Regions from separate parts of the Homo sapiens genome. Here region 1 is linked to region 2. The links come from fine-mapping of genetic effects on gene expression. Tissue or cell type: nasal epithelium. Region 2 holds a variant in brackets; the other region holds the start of a gene. All regions are shown on one strand. Distances are from middle to middle.

Evidence for each region. PIP is the estimated chance that this variant, and not a neighbour inherited with it, causes the effect.
Region 1: NIPAL2 starts here. The variant in region 2 is fine-mapped to the expression of NIPAL2 in nasal epithelium (TOPMed, PIP 0.98).

What each region holds. Positions count from the first base shown.
Region 1 is chr8:98,290,924-98,299,953 of GRCh38, forward strand. NIPAL2 (NIPA like domain containing 2) reads right to left here and starts at 3,312. Exons shown (of 11, transcript NM_001321635.2): 1 at 3,080-3,312. The coding sequence starts at 3,214. All of the region lies in intron 5 of LOC105375659 (a long non-coding RNA gene), which reads left to right. RefSeq lists a silencer at 2,832-3,551.
Region 2 is chr8:98,187,183-98,198,319 of GRCh38, forward strand. NIPAL2 (NIPA like domain containing 2) reads right to left here. Exons shown (of 11, transcript NM_001321635.2): 9 at 8,760-8,823; 10 at 7,546-7,640; 11 at 2,644-5,908. The coding sequence ends at 5,796. The region is part of intron 2 of NIPAL2-AS1 (NIPAL2 antisense RNA 1); the gene reads left to right. It also overlaps the pseudogene RNU6-914P. Among named protein-coding and RNA genes, the nearest start is that of NIPAL2-AS1, 16 kb to the left of the region's middle. The variant C/T (reference allele first, on the strand shown) is at 6,202.

The sequences.
Region 1 (9,030 bases), 100 kb after region 2:
TTAATCTTCTCATTTTTAAGTGTTGGCAATGTATTGAAGACTTTGAAGCCTCTCTGCTGGTCAAACAAGATGTATCTGTAGGCTGGATTTAGTCCACAGCTGGCCAGTTTGAAAACTGAATCCTGCTAGCCTTAATTTAAATTTTTTTAAATTTAATTTGCTTTGATTCCTGCACTCCTGCTCAAAAAAATCTTCAATGGCTCCCCACTGTCTGCAAGGTAAAGTCCAAACTTTGTCACCAGTCCTTCAAAGCAACCCATGACTATATCCAAGACCCCAAACCATATTTCTACCTTATAGTCAGTCTCCATCTTCCACCGCAACCAGAATGATAGTTGAATTGTACTCTAGGAAGGAAAATATTCAGAAAGGCACCAGTCCTGGCCATGAGGGCTGCTTCTGGGTCCCTAAGCTTTTTCCTTTCCTGCAGTGCCCTACACTGTGCATGCCTATCAATGAAACCCTGTCCATCATTAACCATCCAGCTCAAATACCACCTCTCCACAAAACATCCCTGATGGCCCAGCCAAATGCCCCTTTGCTCTGAATTTCCATGGGACTTTATATCACTCACATGACACTTACAACATACTGCCTTGTTTTGGCATTACCTACATAGCTCATTTTCCCAAACACCTAATAATATTCACAGAAGGAAGAGTTTGGGTTTTGCACTATATTGAATATCCCTGTAGTGCTTTGTACATAGCATGGAGCTCAATAAACATCTTGGGAACATTATCCTTCTCTACTGAAAACTTGTGGATCAAACATAAAGTGCCTTTTGTTTACCTGTCACAACTCCATCACTTCTATACTTCTATAGGCCAGGCTTTTCACCAAGCACACAGCGTCTGAGTAGTGCAAAGGGCAAAGACTTCACTTCCCTGCTCCTAAGACATCTTCCCCCACTGAACTACTACTTTTGAGTTGCTTTGAGGTTTCTTCCTCCAGAAGCACTCACACCTTTGTCTTAGACAACATTGATTCTAAGTGGCCACTGTTAAACATGTATTACATGAAAGCATTCCAGGGAAGTTTGTCTTTTTCTATGTAGTAAGGTTAATTGATCAGATTTGATGATAATCACTTTGGAAGGGATAAAGGGACAGAGAACTAGGCTATCAGCCAACACACACTGTGCAAATATTTTAGTTGTGATAAAACCAATGGAGGCAAGCAAATAAGCATCATTAAGCTGTGGCTAGTTAGCAACCAACATTCATTTTGATTGTGGGAGTGACACATTTATATCTCACACTTTGTTTTTCTGTATCCACACCCATTTTCAGCCATTTCTATTCAGTGTCAAAAAAGACAAGAAAAATTAGACTCAATTTTATTTTTACTGGCCTGGACAACACCAGAGGCACTCAATAAAATGCTTCTCGAGTAAACTTTTTAAAAATTAATTTTTACTTTTGCTTAACACAAATGCAATTACTGAAAAGATAAAATACCACCATCTTATAAGAGGGCCTAAATTTGCACAATAATGGCAAAACTTGATACAGTTTTATCTCAAACCAGCAAAGTTTAGATGTCAGCTCAGTAATTTCAATTAGCACATTCTGGATACATCCTTTCTAACCTGTACAAATACACACTGTCAAAGGCAAATTAAGCCTTGCAAACAGTATTTATTTGCCTCACATTTATGTCACATGATAATCTGTGTTTGGATATCAGACAGCCAAGACAATCAAGAATTCCAGGAAATGTCAAAGAAAACTAATGACTACAGAGGTTTCCACTGTGAAAACAATGTCCTGTTTTTGGATGATCACATCTGCTAACCCTCTATTTTTTTTTTTTTTTTAATCAAGAGGGGATAGATAACTCATTCTTAAACTTATATTGGGAATACTTCTAATAAAAGAATAATATAATAGATAGATTCAAGTTCCCATAAAAATGATGCTTTTCTTTGTAATTCCTGTGGGTAGAAGAAAGGAGAAATGGGGTTGGATTACAAACATTGATCAAGAGGCTCTGAGTACCCTCATTTTTCCTATTTTTATATCTTTTATGATGAAATGACTTAAAGCAATACTCTCCCCTCTTGAAAACTAATAAAGTGAACATGCTTATTTATCTTACTTATTCTTTATACAAATATATTCTCTTCTGCATTCAGAAATTAATATTTAGAACACTTCAGGCATAAAAGGAATCCAGATCTTTGATAATTGGTTAAACTCTCCGATTTAGGACAACAGCAACAAATATTTTCTGATTATATTGTTGCAAAAATAAAAGTATCCATGGTTTTGTTAAAGAACAAGAACAAAGTAACACATTTAATGAAAACAGGAGGAAGCCTGGAATCCACCGTGATAAAACTTAGTTGCAATATGAACGCTGCTAGAGGAAGGGCTGGCCAGAACACTTCCTCATCTTAAACCAAGCCAAAAATAAATGGGCGGCTCCAAGTCCCTTTGATTTTGTTAAATGTATATTTCCAGTGTAAACTGGCGTTGTTTAAGTTAACAAAGTTTTCCCAAAGGGCCGGTGGGAAAGAATGAGAGTCCTGCAAATGCAACCTGAGAAAATGTGTTCCTCGCACGGAAATGGAAGAGCTGTGTTGAGATACCAGGGACACACGCAGGGCATCTGCGCGAGGTGACATTAGGCTGCCCTTAATGAGTTTTCTGCTTCTGATAACAGGGTGTCACTTTTTTCTTTTCTTTTAACTGTAAAAGGATCCTGGGGTGAAAATGAGTGAATTGCCCCCACACTCCTAGATTCCTTCCGGGAGAAGAGGGCGGACGCAGGCTGGGGAGGCGGGATCGGGACCCGGAGGTCCCAGGAACGGGTGGCTGAGGTCAAGGCCGAAGACCTGGGCGCCCACTCCCAGTGCCGGGTGCCCGGGAGAGGAAGACTGGGCGGACCCCCGCGCTTCCGGATGAGGCGGACTTAGGTCAATGCGGGAAACATTGCATGTCACCTCTTCCCACTCGGAGAGGCCGGGTGTCTTCCTGAGAGCTGGCAGGAAAGCGGCCGAGGCGCAGAGGCGCCCGGAGCCAGCCGCCCTGGCCGCGTCCCCACCGGGCTGCGGTGGCTGCGGGGCGGCCCTTACCTGGTTCCTGCGGTACCAGTCGCCCGAGAGGGAGCCGTTGCCGGCGCCTGGTGCCCCGTACGTGAAATTCAGTGACAGCTCGTCCAGGGCGGCCGAGGCGGAGTCCCCGGGGCCCGCGGGCGCCACCGCTGCCATGAGGTCTCGCTCCCGGCGCTCGGGCTCCGGCTCGGGCTGCGGCCGCCTCCCCGCCCTGTTGCACCGCGAGGAGGCCGCGCCGCAGCCACTTCCTGCTCGGTGCCCGGGCGAGGCGGGCGCGCCGAGGCCACCTGGCTCCCGCCCCCGCGCGGCCGTAGGTGCTCCCAGCCTGGCCGGGCGCTGCCTCCTCTCCTCCTCCGGTGCGAGGTGTCCTCGGGGAGCCCGGCGGTCTGCGGCCTCCCGGGGCCGTCCAGCTCGCACCGCGCCCTCCTTCCGCTGGGCCAGTGTCTGCATCCTCGGGGCCGCACTGCCCAAGGGGGCAATCCCCGCGGCCGTCCGCAACGGGTCCCCGCGCCTGTCGGGGCCAGAATCAGATCATCTCCGTTGTAAACATTTGTCCAAGTCAATGGAAGAGGAGGAGACACTGACTAACCCAAAGCAGCTATCATCTCCCATCTCTACCTGGCAATTCCAGTCCTCTATCACATATGTAGTGTTTCTCACCGATATTTTAAAAATTGATTGCATATGAAAAAGTCATGAGTTCCCAGAAATATTGTAAGCAATATGAGAAAAAAAGATCCGAGCGATTGAATCTCAGTGCCAGTGCTTGATAGATCCTTAGTAAATATTCCTTGAATGAGGAATGTGGTAGCCATAGGACCCCAGTGTGCGATGACTGGATTGGGTTTGCTTCAGATGGGATCAGGTGGAGTTGCTGAAAAGTTGCCAGCTACTGTATATATGAATTTAGGATGAAAGATAAATGTTGTTATTAATCTTAAGAACTCTAACGAGATGTTCTGGTTTTACCTGTATTCAAATTCTAATGTGTGACCACAAATGATCTGTAGGGTATTTCTCACTTTAAAAAAACCATGATTCTATACTGTTGCCTGAAGGCTGATAGTTGCCTTCTTTTGTTTACACAATGCTGAGGTTTTTCTTAGATAATGTGCTTTGACTTCCATGAGTTCATGAAAGAGAGACCTTCAAGAAAAGAGAATTGCTGCCTAGAAGGGAGCAGGGACAGTTTTCAGTGTTTCTTAGGGGAAATGTGCAAATGAGAGAAAAGAGTGAGAAAAAGTCATTTCACATACAGAAAAAACAAGACATGTCGTCTCAGAAATTGTGTAGTTTCTTGCTTAAGCACTCGAGATGTTCAGTGAACAGCTAACAATTGTAGGTAACTATTCCCAATTTTAAGAGGCTGATTTACTTCAAATAAATATCTGAAGGAAAAAGGTCTCTATTTGTTATATTACATTTTATTTTATTTTTTGAGACAGGGTCTTGCTCTGTTGCCCAGGCTGGAGTGCAGTGGTGTGATCTTGACTCACTTTAGCCTCATATTCCTGGGCCCAAGTGATCCTCCCACCTGGGACTACATACAGGTGCATGCCACCATGCCCAGCTAATTTTTTTTTTTTTTAGATAGAGTCTCTCTCTCTTGCCCAGGCTGCAGTGCAGTGGCACAATCTCAGCTCACTGCAACCTCTGCCTCCTGGGTTCAAACAATGCTCCTGCCTCAGCCTCCTGAGTAGCTGGGACTACACGTGCACACCACCAAGCCCGGCTAATTTTTGTATTTTTAGTAGAGACAGGGTTTCACGGTGTTGGTCAGGCTGGCCTCAAGCTCCTAACCTCCAGTGATCCCCCTGTCTTGGCCTCCCAAAGTGCTGGGATTACAGGTGTGAGCCACCACACCTGGCCCTGGCTAATATTTTTCTATTTTTTTGTAGGGACAGGGTCTCGCAATTTTTCCTAGGCTGGTCTAGAACTCCTGGCCTCAAACAGTTGTCCCACCTCGGCCTCCCAAAGTGGTGGGATTACAGGTGTGAGCTGCCATGCCTTGTCTGATAAGTTTTCTATAACATCACATTCATTGATATTGGTGACTTCATTAATGCTTCTTTCTCTTCACATGCTTTAGGGTGCAAGTAACAGAGTATCCAAATAAAAGTGGCTTAAACAATAATTATCTGCTATCTCCAGAGGAATGTGTCTCTATGTGGTTCTATTATGTCGTCACTTCCACCTTTCTGCTCTGCTATCCCTGAGGTACTGGTCTTGTCCATTGAGGGAGGAAAGCCTTTTCCAGAATCCTCCTGGCATCCTTTCACCTCAGATCCCATTGGCTGGGACTGGGTCACATGCCCATGTTCTACCAGCAAGGGAGGCTGGGAAAGTGATTCTTGGGTATTTCCAACCTAGTGAGAGGTAAGCTCTACCAACCAGGATGAGTGGGAATGCCATGGGGTTATGGGGGAGGGGAACCAGTCAACCCTGGTACAACCACTCTAGTATTTTTCTATCAGCCAGATTGTAAGTAGTTGTACAGTTGCTAACAAGCAAAATACTAAATGGATTGTGTTACTTTCTGGTTTAAAATGCCTTGAAGCCTCCCTATTGCCATAATGAAGTCCACACTTTTTTTTTTTTTGAGACAGAGTCTTGCTCTGTCACCCAGGCTGGAGTGCAGTGGCACAATCTCGGCTCACTGCAAGCTCCGCCTCCCGAGTTCACGCCATTCTCCTGCCTCAGCCTCCTGAGTAGCTGGGACTACAGATGCCCGCCACCACGCCCAGCTAATTTTTTGTATTTTTAGTAGAGTCTGGGTTTCATCGTGTTAGCCAGGATGGTCTCGATCTCCTGACCTCATGATCCACCCACCTCAGCCTCCCAAAGTGCTGGGATTACAGGCGTGAGTCACCACGCCCAGACAATTTTTTTTTTTTTTTAATTTTTTGTAGAGATGGGGTCTCATTATGTTTCCCAGGCTGGTCTAGAACTCCTGGCCTCAAACAATTCAGTGAGACTTCTGAATAAAACTAAGTTTAATTCTTTAAAAGCTTGATTTTTTTCCCTTTAGTTGATACTCTGCTATACTCAACTTGTTCCCATTTTATTTCTTAATTTAAAAAAACATTTTCAATTTCTTTACATTTGTTTAAAACCTCTAATTTTGGAGGAAGATGGTACATGATGCAGAGAAGATTTGATGTACAGCCTACCACGTGGTGTTCTCTAGATTCCAAGATGTCACTGCTGTTGCTGCTGTCCTAGTGTGTGTGGGTGGTTGAAACGAAGAATTCGTGACCAGCGTTCCTTCCCACACAGTTCACAAGGAGGCGGCAGGAATGCCATGTGAACTATTTTGGTCCCAGCAGTGTAGGCAGAGCTGTGGAGATTGTTCCGTACTTTGTGACGGCCTCTACCTCTCGTGGGATTTCTTCAGGGGATATCCTGTTCACTTTACGGGATGCCAAAAGCTAAAAAAAGGGCTGAAACGTGGAAGTCTGTCTTCCTCAGTTAATTTGAAGAACTCTACTCTGGTGCCAAATCATTTACTTAGAGAGCAGGGTTAGATTTTGCCTACCTTGCCTGGGATCAGTCACTGGCAGCATTAACAAAACAGCTTTTTTTTTTCTCTCAACTTTTTTTTTAGATACAGGGGTACATGTGCAGGTTTGTTACATGGGTTTCTTGCAACCAAGTAGTGAGCATAGTACCAGTAGGTAGTTTTTCCACCTGTGCCCTCCTCCTTCCCTCCCCTCTCTAGTAGTCCGCATTGTTGATTGTTCCCATGAATAAAATGTTTTTTTTAAAATTCATCTCTAGCACAATTCAGTCAATACTAGTTGTGTTACAATAAGCATTACTCAAGTTAGGAGCTTTTAAGGGGCCAAAGTAGAGAAGGGTATGGATTAATTCAGGTATCTCACATCATAAGCCAAGTCCAGATTAGAGACTTTGATGAGAGAGGCGAAACTTTGAATCTTATAGAATAACATATGACATCATCTCTATAAACAACAGTTTGGCAATTGTTAAAGTGCAAACACAAGGCAGACTGTCTGGGTTCAAATCCTGACTCCACTGCTTATTTGCTGTATGACCTCATCTAGTTGCTCAATTTCTCTGAGCCTTGTCTTTATCACCTGTAAAAGGGAGATGATAAGGAGTACCCGAAACATAGAAAGTACTCAATAGGTGCCGGCTATAACCTTACAATAGGGAAGCATCCCTTAAACAAATTAAAAAATACAATCCACATAGACAAAGATTCATAAGTGCAATTACAATAAAACTAAGAACTTTTTTTTTTTTCGAGACAGGGTCTTGCTCTGTTGCCCAGGCTGGAGTGCAGTGGTACAATTTTGGCAGGACGAAGTCTTGATCTCCCAGGCTCAATCCATCCTCCCACCTCAGCCTCATGAGTAGCTGGGACTACAGGCTCACACCATGACGCCCAGCTAATTTTTGGGTTTTTTTGTAGAAATGGGGTTTCACCATGTTGCCCAGGCTGGTCTCAAACTCCTGGGCTCAAGCAATCTGCCTACTTGGCCTCCCAAAGTGCGGGTTTACAGGCATGAGCCACCATGCCCAGCCAAACTAAGAACTTTTATACATCAATAGGCACCATAAAGTGTAAAAAGATAAGTCAGAAACTGAGAATCTTAATACAAAAATACTAGCCAGGCATGGTGGCGCATGCCTGTAGTCTCAGCTACTTGGGGAGGCTGAGGCAGGAGGATCACCTGAGCCCGGGAGGTCAAGGCTGCCCTGAGCTGTGATCATGCTACTACACTCCAGCCTGGGCAATAGAGTGAGACCCTGCCACAAAAAACAAAACAAAACAAAACAAAACAAAAGTCAAACTCAGAACTTTTATTTCTCATACATGTGACTGACCAAGGATTCACATCCAGAATATATAAATAACTCCTTCAGGTCAATAAGAAAAAGTCAGACAACTGGTAGAAAAATGGGCAAAAATATAAACAGGTGGTCTTCATAAGAAAAACTATAAATGGCTAATAAACATATAAAATACTTCCATTTCACCAGTAATCAGAAAAATACAAAATAATATCTCCAATGAGAACCATTTTACACCTGCTGGTTGGCAAAAAAAAAAATTTTTAATTTGCATACCAAGTGTTGATAAGGATGTGGAGCAAAAGAAACTCTTATTTAGTGCTGATGCTATTGACACTGGAAAGAGTTTGACAGTATTTGGTAAAGATGAAGATGTACATGTGAATTTCACTCTTATGTACATACCCCAGAGAAACTTCCGTACCTGGACAGCAGAAGAGATGTATAAGAATAACAGCACTCTTTGTAACAGCAAAACAAACAAACAAACAAACAAACAAACAAACAAAAAACTGGAAGCAGCTCAAATGTCCATTAGCAGGAATAGTGGGCAAATGAATTTTGATACATTTATATAATGGAACACAGCAATGAAATTACCTGAATGACAACCACCTAACAGCCACAGCAACATGGATGAATCCCACAAACATAATAATAGCAAATCCATAGAAGATTATATTCAGTATTATTCAAAAGCATGCAAAATTAGACAATATATTGTTTAGAAGTACATCTATCTATATGTGGGAAGACCTAATGAAAAGCAAAGGATAGACCAGGTGCTGTGGCTCATGCCTGTAATCCCAGCATTTTAGGAAGCGGAGGCGAGCTGATCATTTGAGCTCAGGAGTTCAAGACGAGCCTGGGCAACATGGTGAGATCTGTATAGGTACAGTGAGCCGTGATGGCTCCACTGCATTCTGTCCTGGGGTACAGAGTGACACCCTGTCTGAAAAAGAAAGAAAGAAAAAGAGAGAGAGGAAGGAAGGAAGGAAGGGGCAAAAAATGATAAACACAAAAATTCTGATAGTGGTTGAAAGGTTTGGCAACGTTCTATTTTCTAAATTGGGTTATGTGTTATATGGGCATTTGTACTATTATTATTCTTAAAGGTATACACTTATGTCAAGTGTGCTTTTTTATAACCATAA
Region 2 (11,137 bases):
ACAGTGTAGGTACTTTGGCCACTTGTGCTAAGAGTGTGGGTTACAGAGCTAGATGTCCTGGGTTCAAATCCCAGCTCCGCCACTTGCCAGCTGAATGATACTGGTCAAGTCACTTAACTCCTTTTCCCAGGACTGGGACACAGTGAGGCACCTAGGGCACAACATTTAAAGAGGCACTCACTCTCAGGGTCCTCTCACCACCCCACAAGTCAGATTTTCATAAGCTTCATTAAATTGTGTGCCTTGGGCCTCTCTTGACTTACCCTAATCCCTGCCCTGCCTCTTATCATGGTTTTCTAATCTGTAAAGTGGGGATCAGGACCTCTCTAATAGAGAATTTTAAGGATGAAATGAATAACACAAGTAAAAGATTAGCAGTAAGGGCTCAATAAATGATAGCTATGGTTTCTCTAACTAGACAGGCAACTCACAAAGAGCTGGTCTAATTCATCATCATATTCCCAATAACTTTAAATTGCAAAAACTTGGAAGCTTTTTGCAATTGCAAGATGTCCTTCCAAGATGATATCTATTTATCTACTTGTCCAACCAAGTAGACGAATAGGCGAATAAACTGTGGTACGTCCAGGCAATGGAATACTATTCAGCACTCAAAAGAAATGGGCAACTAAGTGTAAATAGCCATGGAGGAACCTTAAATCCATGTTACTAAGTGAAAGAAGCCAATTTGAAAAAGCTACATACTATATGATTTCAACATATGACATTCCTGAAAAGGCAAAACTTTGGAGACAGTAAAAAGATCAGTGGTTGCCAGGGCGTGCAGGGATGGAGGGACGACTAGGCAGAGCACAGAGGGTTTTGGAAACTGATCTGTATGATACTATCATGATGGGCACATGTCACCATACACTTGTCCAAACCCGTAGAATGTATAACAGCAAGAGCGAACCCTAACGTAAACCAGGGAGTTTGGGTGATAATGATGTGCCAATGTAGGCTCATTGATTGTAACAAATGTACCACTCTGGTGGGGGATGTTGCTAATAGGAGAGGCTGTGCCTGTGAAGGGGCAGGAAGCAGATGGCAATTCTCTGTACCTTCTGCTCAATTTTGCTGTGACCTAAAGCTACTCTACAAAATAAAGTCTATTTAAAAAATGCATGTTACATTGAAAATTGTAGGTGATTGATTATATTTGAGTGAATTAATGAACATTTGCTAAGATTGAGTCATGTGGTAATTGAGCTAGTAGTCTATAATCAGGCAAATAACCCAGGCTTTGAGTCCCTGGGGTCAAGAGTTCTTGAGTTGATTCATCTCCTTGTTCATGCACAGTGTTTAGAAGGTTTAGGTGAGGTGCTTTGGATAGAGGGAGTAGAGCCCAAGCCTCAGAACATTTCTGAGGTTGGTTTTCAAATTAGAACCATGAGGGAAAGGCTTGAAAGTGGGATGCGTGCACACTGGATGGATTTGTTCATGTTTGGATAGCAGCAGCTCAAATGTGCAAAGTGGCTTCGGTCCATGCTTGCTGGTCCCACCAGGAATGGAGGGCTCTTTCTTGGCTATGCACTTGTCAGCTCCCTGGGAAGGAGATTCTTTCCTGGAACATGGAGACTATCTGACATCTTGTCTGGAACTCCATGAAACTCTTGGCAGCACCTGGCCCAGCAGGGTGCACCCCAAAACACCACATTTATTTGATATTGGGATTGATATTTCTCTTTTACATTGTGGTTGGGACTCATTAACTCTCAATAAGGACCAACATTAAAGGAGGAGTTTCCTCCCTCTCAGGAAAAAAAAAAAAAAGCTTCCTTGGATGGGCCACAGCTCCTGTAACTGATTTGCTCTTCTGGCACAGGACATCATGTTGTGTGGTACCCTGAGGCTGGTGAGAAAGGGAACAGACTCAAAAATTCCTGGGTGGAAAGGCTCTTCCCTGCATTTACCACAATTGCTAAAATGCTAGGTTTAATAGCTCAAGGCTGGTCTATATTTGCATGGAAACTGTGTATGTGTGGAATTTTATTTTATTGTTTTACTTCAAGATGGTCATAATAAGAGCCAGACTGTTGATGAGTCTAACGATTAGAAGCAGCCTCTAAATTCCCCATACAATCACGTTGGGTTCAATTTTGAGATTTTATTCTAATAGTTCAAAATGTGTGGTGTTTATCTAGCAACCTCACTAAAGGACTCACATTCACTGGTGCCAAACATGTGCATTAGCCTTGCAGCCGCCCAGTGCAAAGACTGCCTCTATAACCAGCCACAGAGTTTAAGTAAAGCAGTCTGGAAGAGTGTTGGGAAGGTTCATGTCAGTAACTGCTATATTTATGTCCACCATATCACTGTTAAATTGGCAAGCACTGAGGCAGCCTTCAGCATGGCTGAGTGTGTACACTCACCATTCCTGGATGAGTTGCGTGCTTGGAAACAGGAGCACAAAGAGGGTGCTTGGCTTAGGGAACTTGGCTCGACATTTCTATCTCTTTGAGTTATGTCCACCATTACACCTGCGTCCTTTGGAGCCAAACTTACACATTACCACCATTACTCTTTCATAGCACTGAAATTGTACTCATCTATGAAATCTGCCTTTCTCTTTCTTACATTGCCACAGAACAGAATCTCTAGGAGTGTGTGGGGTATTGAAGAGGGGGAAGAATACATTCTGGGTCACTGCTTGAGAAATTTTTTTATTGTATTTGTTTTCAAGTGATTCTGGTAACCAAAGTATTACAGTTACAGGGCAAGCAAACATTTAAGCCAAAAAACAATCATATGGCAAAGGCCTCTGCTTTAATCTACTACATGAGAGGTCATTGTTACTCATTTCCAAAGCTGTTATAGACTTGGAATGTGGAATTGGAGAGGCTTTTCGAATGTAGTTAGTGGTGTTCACAAAAGAACCACTGCCTTTCAACTTGGACCCTAAGAATGAACTTATCACTTCCATTTAGAACTTATATAAGCAAAAATATCTGAAGGCAAATATCAAGCCATGTTTCCACACTCCCAAAGTATCTCATTTGTCATGAGCCATGAGTGTCACTTTTTAAACTCCTTCCCTGAATGCCCAATCAACAGGAAAGAAGCTGCAGAGCAAGGGCAGAAGAGTCTAGACCAGGTGTTGGGAACTATAGCTCACAGACTGGCCACTTGTTTTTGTTTGTTTGTTTGTTTGTTTGTTTTTGAGACAGTCTTACTCTGTCGCCCAGGCTGGAGTGCAATGGCATGATCTCGGCTCACTGCAACCTCCACCTCCCGGGTTCAAGTGATTCTCCTGCCTCAGCCTCCCAGGTAGCTGGGACTCCAGGCACCCACCGTCATGCCTGGCTAATTTTTGTACTTTTAGTAGAGATGGGGTTTCACTATGTTGACCAGGCTGGTCCCAAACTCCTAACCTCAGATGATCTGTCAGCCTCAGCCTCCCAGAGTGCTGGGATTACAGGCATGAGCCACCATGCCTGGCCTGTAAATAAAGTTTTACTGGAACACAGCCATGCTCTTCTGTTTACATCTTGTCTATGGCTGCTTTAGTGCTACAATGGCAGAGTTGGGTAGTTGGGACAGACACCATGTCTGTCTGTTGGTACAGACAACACAAACTCCAAAATATGTACTCTGTGGGTCTTTACTGAAAACTTTGCCGACCCTTGGTCTAGACAGATAGTCAGATGAGCTAACAGTTGGCTAAAGGTCCTCAACTCACAATGCCAAGAGAAGGACTGAGTTGGCTTTAGTTGTTGTCATGCACTGTGTAATTTAAAAAATCTTACAGGCCAGTACAACTAAAACTCCTATTTACCTTACTTTGGAGCAACAATATGGAAAGTAAAACTAGGTCTGAATATATTTTATATGTTACCTGGACTTCTAAAACATTGTTGATTGCTTAAATGTGCATAAGTCAATGTCATTTCTCAAAACGTTTAATAGATGCAACTGTTGGCGGCTGCTAAAGTACTGGTGTTATGCTTGTGCCTGTGTGAAATTCTACAGTGCTGAAAATCTCATGCACTCTAGCTATGAATGCAGGTCTACTTGAAGCAAAACTCTTCAATCTAATTGTTTTCTCAATCTTTGTAAACCAGTTTTAAGAGTCACCAGAAATCTGTAGTTTAAGGCACCAGATACATTTCTTGGCTGAGCCTTGTAGGACCAATATGCTGGACCAATTCGGTAAAATACACCATAAATTATGACTGCTTTATCTGAATGCATGGGACACTTGCTACGATGGCGGGAATTATTACCAGGAGTTTAGGAGCCAGACATGGGTTCTGTATTTTTCATACATTGGTGATCAATTCAAATCTCTTTCCTTTGCAGCCAGGTTTGGTCAGTCTGGCCAGGAGTGCAGATTATGACAAAGAACAAAGCTAAAAGACCTGAGCCATTAAGGTTACAGTCTCAATACCACCGAGTTAAACAACCTATTTAAATGCAAGACTATTGATTGGAATGATATTGGACAGACATGTCAGAAGTGATCTGAAGGCTTTGAAATGTCATTAAGGGTGGGACTTATTGTTGGATGTTGGCTGCAACGAAGGCTACTTCTTTTCTTCTCCTTTAAATATTAGGTAGATCATAAATAACAGATATTATTATGGATTCTACCTGCAAATGTGTCTTAGCAGATATGTGATGAATTGGAGTGGAAAAGCCATTCAGGAAACAGGAGGACTTGGGCTTCCTCTTGAAGCTCAGGTTTGACCACTGGGTTGTTTTCTATGTCTACAGGTTTAAATGGCTGAAATTCAGTTCTCTAATCACAACTCTCCTTTTATCTAGAAGAATTTACAAAGCTTGAGGTAATGACTTTGGGAAGAAATGATGTGTAGTGAAACTATCACTAAGAATTTAAATGTGATTTTTTAGACTTATATGGAGAATAAGACATATAAATCCACTTGATAAATTATAAGATCTATAAAAAAGACATAGGATATTAAATTTTTCTTCAGTTTCAAGTATGATAGAATCATACAGCTGAAGAAAACATCACCATTCTAGATTTTTATTAAAAAATAAACAAACATTAGTCCTACTTTTTGTCTCTAACGCTTCATGAATTTATGTGTCAGCCTTGTGCAGGGGCTGTGCTAATCTCTGCATTGTTCCTATTTTAGTACATGGGCTACTGAAACAAGCAGAGTCCTACTTCTTAAACTTCCTCTTCCTTACACGTAAAAAGCCCACCAGTCAAGGTCTTTTAATTTTGGTGTACACTATCACTGAATGCCATTTATAAATTCTAATTTTAAAGAGACCCTTAATTTTCAAAGGAGGACTTTGATAGCATTAGTTTTCAGAAAAGATGACTTGCAATTCTAACTTAGTACTTGAAAGGTGAGATTTTTATAGGGAGGCTTATAAAAGGTGTCTTAGAAAAAAAATGAGCGCTCTCAAACCTTTCTTTTGGGAGTGAGGTTGTGGGGCTGAAGTGACTTTTTAAAGTGAAGCAACTGACACTACCCGTGGGAGAAGCCACCTATGCGACCTGTGGCCAAACCGCAAATGTATGTTTCTGTGCAACATTCCTGCTAGAGCAGCCGGGCTCTGAGTAAGGTGTAGCTGGCTAGATAATCACTAGGGAGAGGTCCAGGGTGTGGGGAACACTCCAAATCACATTCCATGGAAATATTAGACTGTCAGAGCTTAGGAAGTCCCCGATTGTCCATAGACGCTGAGGTGGGGGAAAGGACTGAAATGAATGCTAGCACATGTTAGCTTATAAAAGAGCTGCTGACACAAATTGAACATGTGCAATTTTTTAAAAAGGTGGTATCGAATAACAGGCCAACAGCCATCCTTCTCAGCATTTAGACCTCTTTCTTCTCTCCACTTTGGCTCTTTGTTGAGTCACTTCCATCAGGCAAAGTTCCATAGGATAAGCTATGTGAATCTGGTTGTATTTTGTCCAACATTTGTTTCCCTGTGGAGATAATAATCATAGAGAATCTTTTGAGGTCTTACAGAAAAATAAGTCTTAATAATTTCTCCTCAATCTAGGCCACATTTTATCACCTCTCTTTTATACTATGTGGGCACTCTCTAAAGAGAAGAGATGAATATCAAGGAAGAAAAGGCCCTTGAAACGCCATGTCTGTAGCTATGTGATAGCGAATTGTCTGTGTCAGAGCCACTATCCCCACCCCACAGGATCTACATGCTGGCCATGGAAATCAGGTGGGTTTAGTCTGGAGATTCACATGAAGCATTCACTCA[C/T]CTCCAAGCCTTTCTCTCTGGGGTTGTGTCTTCTTTTCCACGTCGAATGCATATAACAACATAGAAAAATAGCCTTTGATAGTGACTTCTAAAGCTACTACGGAGCCTATGCACTGAGCTTTGTGAAATAAAAAATAGAGTTAAAAATAATCAGGCTCGGTGCAGTGGCTCACACCTATCATCCCAGCACATTGGGAGGCCGAGGCAGGCGAATCATTTGAGGTCAGGAATTCGAGACCAGCCTGGCCAACATGGTGAAAACCCACCTCTGCTAAAAATACAAAAATTAGCCGGGCATGGTGGTGCCTACTCGGGAGGCTGAGACACGAGAATCACTTGAACCCGGGAGGGGGAGGCTGCAGTAAGCTGAGATTGTGCCACTGCACTCCAGCCTGGGCAACAGAGCAAGACTCCATCTCAAAAAAAAAAAAAAAAGTCAAACTTTATTTCCTATCAAAGAACCTCTAACCATATAAGGCTTCTATCACAAGCACCTTTGCCACTGATGCCAATTCTTTCATTGACTGCTCCCAGCAGATAAGATGGCTCGAATGGCAAAGAGAACACAGAATTCATTGCATGGGGCCATATTTCTCAGTCTTAGGGATGAGGCTTCCCTAGTTTTTGCTTCACAGGCATGGTGCTAACAGAATGGTGGAGAAAGCTGTGAGAATGTCTCCACTCCTGCCTGGAAACCTATAGGTCCCCCTACATCCCCAGTAAGGCTGGAGAGTGCTGAGGGCGGGTGGACAGGGGAAGAGGTGACACAGCAGACAGTTTCCTTTGTCCTGGACTTGGCTTTTGTTGTCTACATGACTAGGCGAGTTATTTCTCAGTGAGAGTGAGAACGGGAAAGAGTGTTTGCTCTCTGGGTAGGCGGGGTGAGGAAGGGGGAAGAAACTACTCATGTTTTGGTGACTGTCCTGAGCCACAGTGCACAGGCCACCTCAGGCTTCCCCCAAGACATGCTCCTTAGCTGCCTACCCTTTGTCCTTGGATGTTCCTTCAAGGCTCTCAAAGTGGCAGGGGTCTGCTGCTGGTAGTCATTGCTACTCTTTTCTCTACCCTTTTCCAATTTAAGGAAACCCAAAAAGGAAATCCTCCAAATCACCCAAATCGAGGAAACATGGTCAGTTCTTTTATATCCCCAGTTCTGTGCAAAACTGACATTCAATAAATTATTAGAAACATTTACACTGAAAATAGCACCTTTGGTTTCATTATTAAATGTACATTTTTTAGGATAAGAATTATGTTTTATATTAACTTACCACCCAAAATAATACCAATAACTATTCATTTATAAGGATCAAATTTTCCACTATAAAGAATATATGATTTTACCAGGAATATTTCCAAAATCAATATAAGACTGTTGCAGATGTTCCTTTTCTCGATTTCTTGTGACCAAAAATACACCAAGGAATGACAGAAAACACCTGTAAGGATAATATTAATAAAGAATACAAGAACACTGAAACAGACTCATGGTATTAAATAACTGAGCTCCATATTCTACATGATGACATAAATCCCATTGGTTTTGTTCTTCCAGTTTCTCATGGTAAGCTTCCTAGTACTTGTCTTAATTAGCACAGCCAATAGTTCTACCCAGAACCAAGACTTGGGCAGATTCCAGTAGATCTCTGGCCCAGGTTTTTACCATCTGGGGGCTAACTCAGGCTCAAAACCCTTGGGGACACCCTGTCTCATTTTCTGCCCATGCACGCCCAGATCCATTTCTGGCATGTGACACAAGAGAAAAAATAATTTATTCTTTAATTTTCTAAGAAATCTAGTTTTCCTTGGCCATAAGAGTAGTCATAATTTCCAGACCTCAGAAGTTTGGCCTTGCCCAATTATCTTATGAAATTGAATTTTCAAGATAGATGGCTTCCTACACCGAAAATAGCCTAGGCTCAAGTTTGCATAACAATGATCATGCTGACTACTAGATCAAGGAGCAGCTAAACATTTAATGAAGTGCCTCATGGAGTCATGGAAGCTCCTATACACTGGTGATATATTGTCAAAGTTCTGCTCTCTGTTTGCAAGCAATGCTAGCAATGATGCCCACCAAATCTCTAGGGAGAGCTCAAGCTGCACACTCTTAACACAAGAAAGGGATGCTACCAACCTGATATTATCATGACTAAAGCAAGGGATCTGCCCATCTTGGCCTTTTATTTTGGGCGACCCTAGAGGATCATGATTCTCTAATTTAGATCTAATCTAGGGGTTCCCAAGAGCGAAGTAGGTCTGATACAGTACAGAAAGGTCGTGCAGTAACTACAAGGGCCAGTGGATGTATCTTGTCTTTGGCCTGGAATTGGAAATCCCCAATGTTTCAGAACAGCAGAGATATACCTAAGTCACAAAGCCAAAGACGCTGAGCCCTGTTTAGGGCCTTAAGTTAAAAAATATGTTTCTTTTAGGAGCTCAGGAAACTGATGTTTCTTATATTATTTTCCAATTTTCTATACCTCCGGTACAATGCCGAAAATCCTACGTAAAAGTAATAGAATTTCACATGCTTTACCTCTGAGACATTTACTCACCCAAAAAGATATATAAATACAGTGAGAAAAGGAGCACCAAGGAATTCCTGATAAAATATGATACCTGTAACACAGGAAAAGAAGACAAAATTGATTTTGAAGTAAGGTTATTTATAATAGCTAAATATTGTTTGTAAAATTATGTTAATATGTTATTTTTTCAAAGTAAATTTAGTCATCCTTAAAATGCACATTCAGCAGTTTAGTTTAAGAAAATTTGCATGCCACACATTCTGAATTATTCCAAAAAGAACATAGATTTGTAAATCTGATATAATTATCATTATTATAAAAGAAACATAATTGACATATATTTGCAAGCAGAAATTTCTCATCCAGCCCAGGATTGCCCAACTGGAACATACAAGAAAACAACACTCTAGCAACTATTCCCCACCTGCAGTTTTAGGTCAGGGGTCAGCCAGCCTGGCCTGAGAGTCTGGGTAGACTCTGGGGCCTCTGACATGGCAGGTCCACCTCAGGCCAGCTGCTGCCACCCATGCTGTCACTCGTGGAGATGCCCAGTGATCTGTTGGTCTGGCCACATGGCGACTCAAGTGCCAAAGCACACTCTAGCAGCTGAAGTGCTACCTTAGCTCTACTTCCCACTGCCAAGCCCCCTCTCATCTTCTTCTGGTCTTCCAAAGGTAAACAAGGATGCATCATCTACTTTGATGAACTTTGCTTCTCTCCGTCTTGGTCTCAATGATTTCTTCTGTAAAGTTCCAAAGCCTTCATAGAGTTTTTGTTAAGATATCTTTAAGTTATATGTTGCCTGGAATTAATTTTTTATGTGTGTGGTGTTATCCTTGTTAGCCAGCCAACCAATATTTATTGAACGTCTGCTGTGCGTCAGCCACTGCTCTAGGTCTTGGAGAAATGACAAGACAGAGACCTATCCTCAAGGAGCTTTCTCATTCTTCACCTTATCTCCTTACCTAGGGAATGAACTTCTTACAGGAAGAAGCCATGTCCAGTTCTAATGAATATTTGTTGAATGAATGAAACTTTCTGAAGCACACTCCAGGTTATTACATACTTCCTTATAATCATTTTAATGTTTTCATGTTATTTTAAACGATATACCATAATATTCATTTCTTTAAGGGCATTTCAAGTTGGTTCTACATCTTTTTTCTCTTTTTTTTTTTTCAATTTTTTTCTTCAGTAAAGCAGCAATGTACTTCTTCGTACAGGTGTATCTTGGAGATATGTGGGTTTGGTTCCAGACCACATCACAATAAAGCTAATCTCTCAATAAAGCAAGTCACACTAAATTTTTGGTTTCCCAGTGTACATAAAAGTTATGTTTACACTGTACTGTAGTTTATCAAATGTGCAATAGCATTATGTCTAAAAAAAGTACATACCTTAATTAAAATACTTTATTGCTAAAAATGCTAATGATCATCTGAGCTTGCAGTGAGTCCTATCTTTTTGCTAGTTGTAGGGACTTTCCTCAGTGTTGATGGTTGTTGATTGATCAGGGTGGTGGTTGCTGAAGGTTGGGGTGGCTGTGGCAACTTCTTAAGATAAGACAATAATGAAGTTTGCCACATCGATTAACTCTTTCATGAAAGATTTCTTTGTAGCATGCCATACTGTTTGACAGCATTTGACTTGCAGTAGAAATTCTTTCAAAATCTCTACTTAATCTTCTCGAACACAGCTGCTGCTTTATCAACTAAGTTACTGAAATATTCTAAATCCTTTGTTTTCATTTCAACAATGTTCCTAGCATCTTCACCAAGAGTAGTTTCCACTTTAAGAAACCACTTTGTTTGCTCTTTTATAAAAAGCAACTCCTCATCCATTAAAGTTTGATTATGAAGTTGTAGCAGTTCAGTCACATCTTCAGGCTCCACTTCTAATTCTAGTTCTTTTCCTATTTCCATCACATCTGCAGTTACTGCCTTCTCTGAAGTCTTGAACCTTTCAAAATCATCCAGGAGGGTTAGAATAGACTTCTTCCAAACTCCTGTTAATGTGCATATTTTAGCCTCCTCCCATGAATCACAAAAGTTCTTAATGACATCAAGAAAATCAGAAAGTTTTCAATTTACTTTGCTAAGATCAATCGGCAGAATCATTATCTATGACAGCTACAGCCTTACAAAATGTATTTCTTAAATAATAAGACTTGAAAGTCAAAATTACTCATTGATCCATGGGCTGCAGAATGAATGTTGTGTTAGCAGGCATGAAAACAACATTCATCTCTTTGTACATCTCCACAAGAGCTCTTGGGTGATCAGGTTCATTGACAATAAGCAGTAATATTTTGAAAGGACTCTTTTTCCTGGTCAGTAGGTCTCAACAGTGGGTTTAAAATATTCAGTAACCCATGCCATAAACAGATGTGTTGTTATCCAGGCTTA